Linked DNA regions of Homo sapiens: region 1 is linked to region 2. The links come from fine-mapping of genetic effects on gene expression. A gene starts in region 2. The other region holds a variant in brackets. All regions are shown on one strand. Distances are between the middles of the regions.

Region 1 (5,376 bases), 51 kb before region 2:
ATGAACAATCTGGAAATAAAATTAAGAAAAAAATTGATTTAAAATAGCATCAAAAAGAATAAAATGCTCAGACACAAATTTAATTTAAAAAGTTCAGGCCAGGCACAGTGGCTCATGCCTGTAGTCCCAGCATTTTGGGAGGCTGAGGCAAGAGGATTGCTTGAGCCCAGGAGTTTGAGGATGCAGGGAGCTATGATCTTGCCACTGCACTCCAGCCTGGGTAACAGAGCAAGAACCTGTTTCAAACAAAGCAACAAACAAAAAACACTTTTACTCTGAAAACTACAAAACATTGAAAGAAATAACAGATTATCTAAAAAAATGGAAAAACTTCCCATGTTCATGGATAAGACAATATTATTAGGATAGCAATATTCTCCAAATTGATCTATGGATTCAACATAATTCCTATTATAATCCCAGCTGATTTTTGTAGAAATTGAAAACCCGATTCTAAAATTCACATGGAATTGTAACGATCCAAATCAATCCTAAAAAAGAAGAATAATTGGGAGGCTGCATATTTGCTAGTTTTACAACTTACTACAAGGCTACAGTAATCAAAATAGTGTGATAATGGCATAACGACAGACACATAGATCAATGGAATAGAATTGAGAGTCCAGAACTAAATCCATGTATTTAATGGTCAACTGATTTCAACAAGGGTGCCAATGCCATTCAATGGGGGAAAGAATAGTCTTTTCAACATATGATGCTGGGATAATTGGATATCTACATGCAATAGAATGAAATTGAACCCTTACCTCACACCCTATGCAAAAAACATTAACTCAAAATGGATCAAATACCTAAATGTATAAACTAAAACTATAAAACTCTTGGAAGAAAACATAGAAGTAAATTTTCACAATCTGAATTTGGAAATGGCTTCTTATATGTAAGAAAAGCGTGAGCTAAAAAAGAAAAAAAATAAATAAACTAAATTTATCAAAATTAAAAACTTGTGCTTTAAAGGACACCATCAAAAAAGTGAAAAACATCAGAATGGGAGAAAATATTTTCAAGTCATATAGCTGATAAGGGACTTTTATCCAGACTATAGAAGGAATTCTCACAACTCAATAATGAAAAGACAAATAACCTAATTAAAAAATAGGCAAAGGACTCGAATAGACATTTCTTCAAAGAAAATATACAAATGGCCAAAAGCACATGAAAAGATGATTAACATCATTAGTCACTGGAGAAATGAAAATCAAAACCACAGGAAATAACACTTTACACTCACTAGAATGGCTGGAATCAGAAAGTCAGATAATAAGTGTTGGCAAAGATGTTGTGAAACTGGAACCTTCATACACTCCTGGTGGGAATGTAAAACAGTGAGCCACTTTGGCATACAGTCTGGCGGTTCCTCAAACAATTAAACACAAAGTGACCATATGACTCAGTAATTCCCCTCCTAGATACATACCAGAGAAAAATGAAAATATGTCCACACAAAAAACTTGTATATGAATGCTCATAGCAGCATTATTCATAATAGCCAAAAGGTAAAAACAACCCAAAGGTCCACTGAAGATGAATGAAAAACAAAATGCAGTCTGGTCTATCCACACAATGGAATAAAATTTGGTTATAAAAAGGCTGGCATGGTGGCTCATGTCTGTAATCCCAGCACTTTGGGAGGCCAAAGTGGGAGGATTGCTTAAGGCCAGGAGTTTGAAACCAGCCTGGGCAACACAATGAAACCTCATCTCTGTAAAAAAAAAAACACAAAAATTATCCAGGTGTGGTGGCATGCACCTGTAGTCTCAGCTACTCGGGAGGCTGAGGTGGGAAGATCACCTGAGCCTGGGAGGTTGAGGCTGCAGTGAGTCGCGATCACGTCACTGCACTCTAGCCTGGGTGACAGAGTGAGACCCTGTCTCTAAAAAGAAAAAAAGGAATGAAATACTGATACCTGCTACAACATGGATGAACCATGAAAACATTCAGCTAAGTGAAAGATGCCAGTTACAAAAGACCACATATACAATTCCATTTACATGAGACGTTCAGAGTAGAAAAATTTTAGAGACAGAAGATTAGTGATTGCTTAGGACTGGAGGGATGAGTGGTAGGGAGGTGACAGCTAAAAGGTATGGAATTTCTTTCTGAAATGATGAAAATGTTCTCAAGTTGACTGTAGTAATGGTTGGACAACTCTGGAAATATACTAAACTCCATTGAATTGTACCCTTGAAATGGGTGAACAATACGGCATATGAACTGCATCTCAATGAAGCTTTAAAAAATAATACAGTGGGAAGAAAAAGTCTGGCAACTTCTGACTGTCTCCTCAGCCCCCACTAGTCTCTTTTAGCCAGAAAATCCTATCATTCAATCCTCACAACAGCATCAATACCCATCATCTTCACCTACAATTTCCTTCCGTGTTCCTTTTCCCAACTCATACACACACAGCCATTCTCTGTTGCTTGAGAAAGTAAGCATGGGGCAATAGCCACAGCCTTCTTCTTTTTTTTTTTTTTTTTTTTT[TTTTTTTTG/G]AGAGGAGTCTCGCTCTGTCACCCAGGCTGGAGTGCAGTGGCTCGATCTCGGCTCACTGCAAGCTCCGCCTCCCGGGTTCACGCCATTCTCCTGCCTCAGCCTCTCTGAGTAGCTGGGACTACAGGCACCCGCCACCACGCCCGGCTGATTTTTTGTATTTTTTAGTAGAGACGGGGTTTCACCGTGGTCTCGAACTCCTGACCTCGTGATCCGCCCGCCTCAGCCTCCCAAAGTGCTGGGATTACCAGCGTGAGCCACCGCGCCCGGCCAGCCACAGCCTTCTTGTAGCTGGAAAGTGAGTTTTAAAAACCAGCAGGACATCAAGCAGAGATGTCCACCAAACAATAGGAAATTCAGGGCAGAGGCAGCAAAGAATGGTTAAAGAGGTGAGATGGGCAGACGGGAAAAACTCTGTCAGGTCTCAGTACTCTAGCTAACATCCTGACTTGTGCATGCGGAGGACAGGGCCAGACCACTCTCTTACCGACAGGGGCCAGCTGATACAGGTGAGCACGCGGTAGAAGCGGAAGAGGTGGACCAGGTAAAAGGCGAGGATCATTATCAAGTCGCAAATGGTGACCACTTCAAAGTAGCTGTAGGCGCTGTAGTTGGTCCACAGGGAGCTCCGCACACAGATGAAGGCAATCAGCAGGGTGACCTGCCACATAAATAGAGACATCAGAGAAATGCTTGCCCAAGACGGGCACCCAGGGAACAAACAACGGAAAACAACCAAGCATCCCCCAGCAGGCCCACATTGAAGAACTGCTATTAATACAATTCAGGTTATTTCCATACACACTGGCTGGAAGGTTGGAAGACTGCAACTTCATGTGGTACACACTTTGAAACTACTGTCTGTGAACACTGATGACAGCAGAGACTGACTTCGTCCTCTCTGAAGTTTGTTAGATTGTGCCAGCGGGAAGCCCCCTCAGAAGAAGCAGGAAAACAAGAAAATAACAAAGCAGAACCATCCCTTTCATCTGCTGGATATCCATAGAGCAAAGAGGACAGCGTGATGGTGACCTGGGGTTTACATATTAGGCCCAATTGTACGAAGTTGCCAATATTTGATGGTTTTTGACCTACAAAGATGGTAATTCATACCTTACAGCTATCAACTGACAGATAACAAGTTACCATTTACTGATGTCTGACATACGTGATCTCGCTAAGGCCATGCAGAACCCTGCCAGGTAGACAAAATCATCCCCATGTTCATAAGGGGAAACGGAGGCATGCAGGTTCAATCATCAGTCCAAGGCTATCTGGCTTGTAAGCAGAAGTGGGATTTGAATCCAGGTCTGTCTGACTCTAAGGACCATGTTCCTCCATGTCAGATGCAGTTCTACCTCCCAAAAGTGTAAGCTCTGATCATAACAAGCCGAGAAAGGTGGACGGGTTCTCAACCATGCAGGAATCCTGTTTAAGAGGTGAGGCTGCTCACCATCAGGGCATGTGGTGAGAGCTCACTAAGAAATATCTCAGCACGAGTGAACATGCTTAACGGCCTGCTACTGAATTAATAACCAGATGAAAACTATTAGCAATGCATGAGTACAAGAAAGTAGAATGAGTAACAGTCTGAGCTTCCGTGAAGGCCAAAGAGAAAACCTGTCTACTCCATGTAGGGAACAAACCAGTAACACACGGGATTCAATGTGTGTAAAATCTTAGAATCTACTTATTTATTTAGTTATTTAGTTTTTGTTTTTCTGAGATAGAGTCTGGCTCTGTTCCCCAGGCAGGAGTGCAGTGAACCAATCTCAGCTCACTGCAACCTCTGCTTCCTGGGCTCAAGTCATCCTCCCACCTTAGCTTCTCAAGTAGCTAGGATTACAGGCGTGTGCCATCATGCCTGGCTAATTTTCATATTTGTAGTAGAGACGGGGTTTTGCCATGTGGCCCAGGCTGGTTTCAAACTCCTGAGCTCAAGCAATCCCCCTGCCTTGGCCTCCCAAAGTGCTGGGATTATGGACGTAAGCCATTGTTTCCAGCCAGGAATCTATTTAAAATGCACAACCAATTTAGAAAAAAGATTATTTTATACACTGCCTCTCTCCTATGGAGGAGTGATTCTTTTTTTTTTGAGATGGAGTCTCACTCTGTTGCCCAGGCTGGAGTGCAGTAGCATGATCTTGGCTCACTGCAACTCTGCCTACGAGATTCAAGCGATTCTCTTGCCTCAGCCTCCAGAGTAGCTGGGACTACAGGTATGCACCACCATGCCCAGCTAATTTTTGCATTTTTAGTAGAGAGGGGGTTCCACCATGTTGGCCAGACTGGTCTTAAACTCCTGAACTCAAGTAATCTGCCTGCCCCAGCTCCCCAAAGTGCTGTGATTACAGGTGTGAGCCACCACGCCTGGCCAGAGCAGCGAGTCTTAAAGTGTGTGTGTGTGTGTGTGTGTGTGTGTGTGTGTGTATGCGTGTGGTGTTAGTGTATGGGTGTGTTAGCGTATGGGTATATGATTTTGTGTCCTATGGGACATTTGGCAATGTGTGTATATATTTTTGGTTTACACAATTTGCGGGGATGGGGGTTGCTACTGGCATTTAGTGGGTAGAGGCCCAGGGTGCTGCTAAGCACCCTGCAATAAATAGGAGAGCTCCCATAGTAAAGAGTTACCCATCTCCAGCCCCAAATGTGGCCCCTCAACTACAGTACTACTGTTGAAAAATTCTGCTATAGAAAATGTCAGTCTACAATGAGAATTAAATCACAAAATGGGGCCTGGTGCATGCCTGGCATCCCAGGCTCACGCCTGCAATCCCAGCACTTTGGGAGGCCAAGGCGGGTGGATCACCTGAAGCCAGGAGTTTGAGACCAGCCTGGGCAACAAGCAAGACCCTGTCTCTA
Region 2 (5,376 bases):
TATTCATCAAAATCATGGACCACATGAAGGCTTCTCATCTCCATTACCTTTTCTTTGTACCTTTTTTTTTTTTTTTTTTTGAGACAGGCCTCCCTCCGTCACGCAGACTAGTGCAGTGGCACAGTTCACTGACCTTCTCAGTTCAATCAATCCTCTCACCTCAGCCTCCCAAGTAACTGGGACTAGAGGCCCATGCCAACCACACAAGGTTTTAAAATTTTTTTTGTAGAGATGGGGTCTCGCTATGTTGCCGAGGTTTCATCTCCATTATGTTTGTGTACCAAACTCATAGACCAACAAGAAGACTTTTCATCCCACAATATCTTTGTCCAGCAAACTCAGGGGCCAAGATGGAGGCTTCTGATCCCATTCTCTGTCTACCAAACTCATCCCTTCCAATGCTCAGGTAGGATATGTCTCACCCCAGCCCATCTTTTAAGGATGGTGAGATGGGCTGGTCTCTTCTATTTGGCTGATCAAATCTCTTAGCCTGGGCCAAAAAATGCCCTGCTCAAACCCAACAATGCTCAGCACCAGATTTTTTTGTACGTTGCTGAAATGGCTCTTCCTAGTTTTTGGTCTATCTAGACACCGTTCTTAGGGAGGCAGGAACTCAGCGCCCCTTCTCTTTAGGTCTGGCCCAAGCAAGACATGAGGGCCACCTCATGCACACTCAGTGTCTGGAATGGCAGTGCTATAGATGCACAGACGTCCTGTGCCCAACCCCCTGGGGCCAGGCCACCTTAGCAGGCCCCAGCTTCTGGGTGTGTGACCTTGTCCAGCCCCACACTCCTTTCCCCACACCTCTTTTTGAAACTTACCGCTCCCCTCCCCACCGTTCTTGGTGCAAACATTACAATGGTGGAGACTCACAAACAGCCCAACCCAGTTTCAAAACACATCATACAAACGGAAAAGTTGTTTCAGATTACAAACTTTTAAAGAAGAAAAAAACGGGAGGGGAGAAAAGAAAAGAGTGGGGAACAAGAGAATCGGCCAGGCAACGTCTGCCCTGGTAGGAGGCCCTTGTGCTGAGTTGGTCACAATCCAAGCCCAGACACTCATCCTGCCTGGCTCCACGGGTGACTCCCATTCAACAGTCTGGCTCCCCTACATGAGTACCAGCCCCTGACAACAGGCCTTTCCCAACTGACCCCCTGCCCTCCAGAGCCCCCTGAGACCCGGGCCCTCCCTCGGAACTTGAGGGCGCAGGGGACCAGGACGGCCGTCTCAACGGTCCCAGTTCTTTTTCCCCACTATGGAACACAAGACCCTCTGACCTCCTCCTTCGAGCGAAACTGCACACAGAGCAGGGAAGCCCTGCCGCGCTGGGTTCGGAGGAAAGAGGAGGCCGTGGACGGGGAAGAGGTCGGGTTTCGCTCCCTCAGCGCCGCCGCCTGGGCGACTCTTCCACCCCCGGCTCGGGTTCGAAGCGGCGCGGCCCAGAGAAGAGGAAGAAAGACGAAAAGGAACTTTGCCCGTGGTTTCAGTCAGTAGGCGGGTCAGGCTTCGCAGGGGGGTGGCCGGAGAAACTTGCGACCCTGGCGACCTGGGTCCGCGGGAGCAAGGGCCGGGGCGGCTCTGGGGACTGAGCTCCAGCGCGGGGGCTGCGGCAGCAACTTTCCCGGAGGAAGCCTGCCGCGAACTTTAGCGACGCGGTGCCCCGCCCGCTGCGCGATGCTCCCTGGGCTCCGGCCGGGTCCAGACGCCCGGCGCGTCCGCTCCCGGACCCCTGCTTTCCCGGGACGCCCTGTAGAACCTCGGCCTCGCGCCCCGCGCTCACTTACCATTTGCGCCACTTTCAGCAGGGCCGCGTGGGTGCGGGGGTAGCTGAGGTCCAGCAGCCCCTCCAAGGGGCTCGCGCTGGGCTGGGCCGCGCCGGCCCCGGGTCCGAGCGCGCTGCCGCTGCTGCACGTGGTGCGGACGAGCCCGGCTCCGTGCGACATTGCGCGGCCCCAGCTCGCTGGCCGCCTCCCCGGGCAGCTGCCCAGGGGCCAGATACAGAGGGCGGGCCGGGGGCGGGCGGGGGCGGGCGCTGGCGAGGGCGGGGCGCCCGGGTCCCTGCCCCGCTGCTGGAGACGCGGAGCCGCCTCTGGCGGGATCCCTCCGGTGACTGGCCGGCCGGCGCCTTCCAGAAAGGTAGCGGCAGTCCCGGCCCTCGTAGATGCGCGGAAGTTAGACTGGAGCGAGAGGAAACCGGATGCCTTGGGTCGTGGCCTCTCCGAGGTGGGCAAGGCCCGGACCACAGCTGGTACTGAGCCTCCTGGGATTTTGTGTGGGTGCGGCTGCGGATGTGTGCTGAGAGCACTTTACTGAAGTTTAACTTACATAAAGTGTGATGCCCAGACCTTACGTGTTCAGCTCCACTAATTTTTATATATGTGTACACCTGTGTAACCGTCGCCCAGATCAACAAATAGAACGTGCCCATCACCCCAGAAAGTTCCGTGGTGGGCCTTCCTGACCTACCTTCCTTCCCTGGCCCCATCCTTATCCAGCCTCAGGCAACCACTACAGTGTATTCTGCTTTCTGTCACTGTAGGTTCATTTTGCCTGTTCTTGGACTTCATAAACTTGAAGTAATACAGAATATTCTCCTTCAACATAACAAATTAGAAGATCCATCCTGTTGGGAATATAAGTAGTTCATATCAGTTCCTTCCTTTTTATTGCTGAGTAGTACTCCACTGTGCAAAGATACCGTATTTTTTAAACGTTTACCCAGTTGATGGACACCAAGCTTGCTTCCTTCCTACCTGCTTGCCTGCCTCCTTCCCTCCTTCCGGCCTTTCCCCCCTCCCTCATCTCTTTTCTGGCTATAGTCACTATTATGGTACACGTTTTTTTGGTGGATACAAACTCTCATTTCTCTGGGACAAATATCTGCAAGTGAACGCACTGGTTACAAGGGGAGCATATGTTTGCTTCTGTTAGAAGCTGTCAGCCTGGGGAACATGGCCAGACCTCATTTCTACAAAAAACAAAAAATAAAAATAAATTAGCTGGGCCGGGCGCGGTGGCTCACGCCTGTAATTCCAGCACTTTGGGAGGCCGAGGCGGGCGGATCACGAGGTCAGGAGATCGAGACCATTCTGGCTAACACGGTGAAACCCCGTCTCTACTAAAAATACAAAAAATTAGCTGGGCGTGGTGGCGGGCGCCTGCAGTCACAGCTACTCGGGATGCTGAGAATGGCGTGAACCCGGGAGGCGGAGCTTGCAGTGAGCAGAGCTTGCGCCACTGCATTCGAGCCTGGGCGACAGAGCGAGACTCTGTCTCAAAATAAAAATAAAAATAAAAATAAATAAATAAATAAATTAGCTGGGTGCAGTGGCACATGCCTGTTCAGGAGGCTGAGTCTGGAGGAGCCTTGGAGCCCAGGAGGTTGAGGCTGCAGTGAGCCATGACAGTGGCATTGCACTCCAGCCTGGGCCACAGAGCAAGACCTTGTCTCAATTAAAAAAAAAAAAAAAGACAAGAAAAAGAAAAAGCTGTCAAACAGCTATCCAAGTGACATTCTATTCTGTATCCCTTTTGGGTTGTTTTAAAAATGAAGAGGCCAGGCGTGGTGGCTCACACCTATAATCCCAGCACTTTGGGAAGTCAAGGCATGAAGATCCCTGGAGGCCAGGAGTCCGAGATTGCAGTGAGCTATGATCTTGCCACCGCACTCTTGTCTGGGTGACAGAGTGAGACACTGTCTCTTAAAAAAAGAAAAAGAAAAAGAAAAGGAAAAAAACATAAAAATGAAGACAGGCCCAAACGGGACTACCAAAACGAGGTATGTTATCATGTTCCTTTTGAGCAGTGTCCCTGTGGCCATACTTACATTTATTCATTTGGAGATAACATCAAAAAATCTGGCTGGGCACGGTGGCTCATGTCTGTAATCCCAAAATCAAGCTCACAAGCCCAAGTTTGACACCAGCAAGGGCAACATGGAGAAACCCCATCTCTACAAAAAAATACAAAAATTAACTGGGCATGGTGGCACATGCCTGTAGTCCCAGCTACTCAGGAGGCTGAGGTGGGAGGATTGCTTGAGCCCGGGAGGTTGAAGCTGCAGTGAGTCATGATTACAACACTGTACTCCAGGCTGGGTGACAGAGCAAGACCCTGCCTCAAGAACAAAACAAAGCAAAGTGAAACATAAAACTATCTTTGTGAGTTTATTCCCTGCCAGTGCTGTCTTGTCATCAGAAGAGTTTTCGATGTGGCAAAGTCCTAATAATTCTTGTTGGTGGATGATACCCATGCAATATCTGTTTTGGCAAGTCTCTTAGGTGATTCTGATGCACACTCAAATTTGAGAACCACTGTCATTGCCAGAGTCCACTGCAGTTGAAACATTTGGGGATTTATTACACTATTTATTTCACCTTTATGTACATTTGACAATTTTCATGACCAAGAAAAATTGCCTTCCACGTGTGTCTTCTCTGTAGACAACAGTCACAGCTGCCTGGTACCTCCATTTGTTTCTCTGTAATTCAGGAATAATTGCATCTAGGGGCTGCTGTGACAATGTGATAGATATGCAGGTGTGCTGTGACATTTCTGGCTCTATACCCACAGGCATGAAGTTAGTACTGTGTATCATTTTTTTATGTAGATGTACATTTCACTTCTGTACTTGTCTAAGGCTTCAGGACCCACAGTGGAGATAACAGGGCATCTTTGTTGAGATGAGGGTTTCAGGGAAGCAGAAAAACCAAGTGCTGGATCATTTCTCCTTTGAGGGGCCTTTGTCCAATTCAGCAGTCTTCTAACAGTGATTTTCAGTGTATAGCCCCCCAACCAGCAGTACCTGCGAACTTGTGAGAAATGCAGATTCTAGGGGCCCACTCTGACCTGCTGAATCAGAAACTCTAGGGGTAGGGCTCAGCAGTGTGTGTCTTAACAAGTCTTCCCAACCCCACCCTCACTCCCCACCCCCCTTCACCATCATTCTGTGATTCTGATGCATACTCAAGTTTGAGAACAACTATCTCTTCCTGAGTCTGCTCAGAAACATTGCTGGGCTTTTCTGCCTGGTGTTGACTAATGCACCACCCACCTCTAATCAGAAGTAATCACTGTGCTGGGCACTCTGTGTTAATCACTTTATTATGATCACTTAAGAGCTTGAGCAAGATGCTTGCCAGTGCAAGGGCCATTGCTGGCCTGACTTACAAGAAGAGGCTTCAGAGGCTTGCCAAGTGCACTGAGATGTCTACACTAGTGTGTTGTCTGCTAGATGTGAATAGCTGCCCCTTGGGAAAGCAAGGTCTTAGGCAAAGGGCTTCATAGCCCACTTTAAAGATGTCACACTCTAAGAGGGAACCAACCAGGTAGGTGACCTCTGAATACCTGGTGAGAAATCAAGATGTCCAAGTT

The links. PIP is the estimated chance that this variant, and not a neighbour inherited with it, causes the effect.
Region 1: its variant is the best candidate, but not a certain one, in a credible set for the expression of CMTM7 in whole blood (INTERVAL, PIP 0.86).

Annotation. Positions count from the first base shown.
Region 1 is chr3:32,439,636-32,445,011 of GRCh38, reverse strand. It overlaps CMTM7 (CKLF like MARVEL transmembrane domain containing 7), which reads right to left. Exons shown (of 5, transcript NM_138410.4): 2 at 2,999-3,172. Among named protein-coding and RNA genes, the nearest start is that of CMTM7, 50 kb to the right of the region's middle. RefSeq lists a silencer at 1,161-1,455. The variant TTTTTTTTG/G (reference allele first, on the strand shown) is at 2,506.
Region 2 is chr3:32,388,477-32,393,852 of GRCh38, reverse strand. CMTM7 (CKLF like MARVEL transmembrane domain containing 7) reads right to left here and starts at 2,000. Exons shown (of 5, transcript NM_138410.4): 1 at 1,788-2,000. The coding sequence starts at 1,946.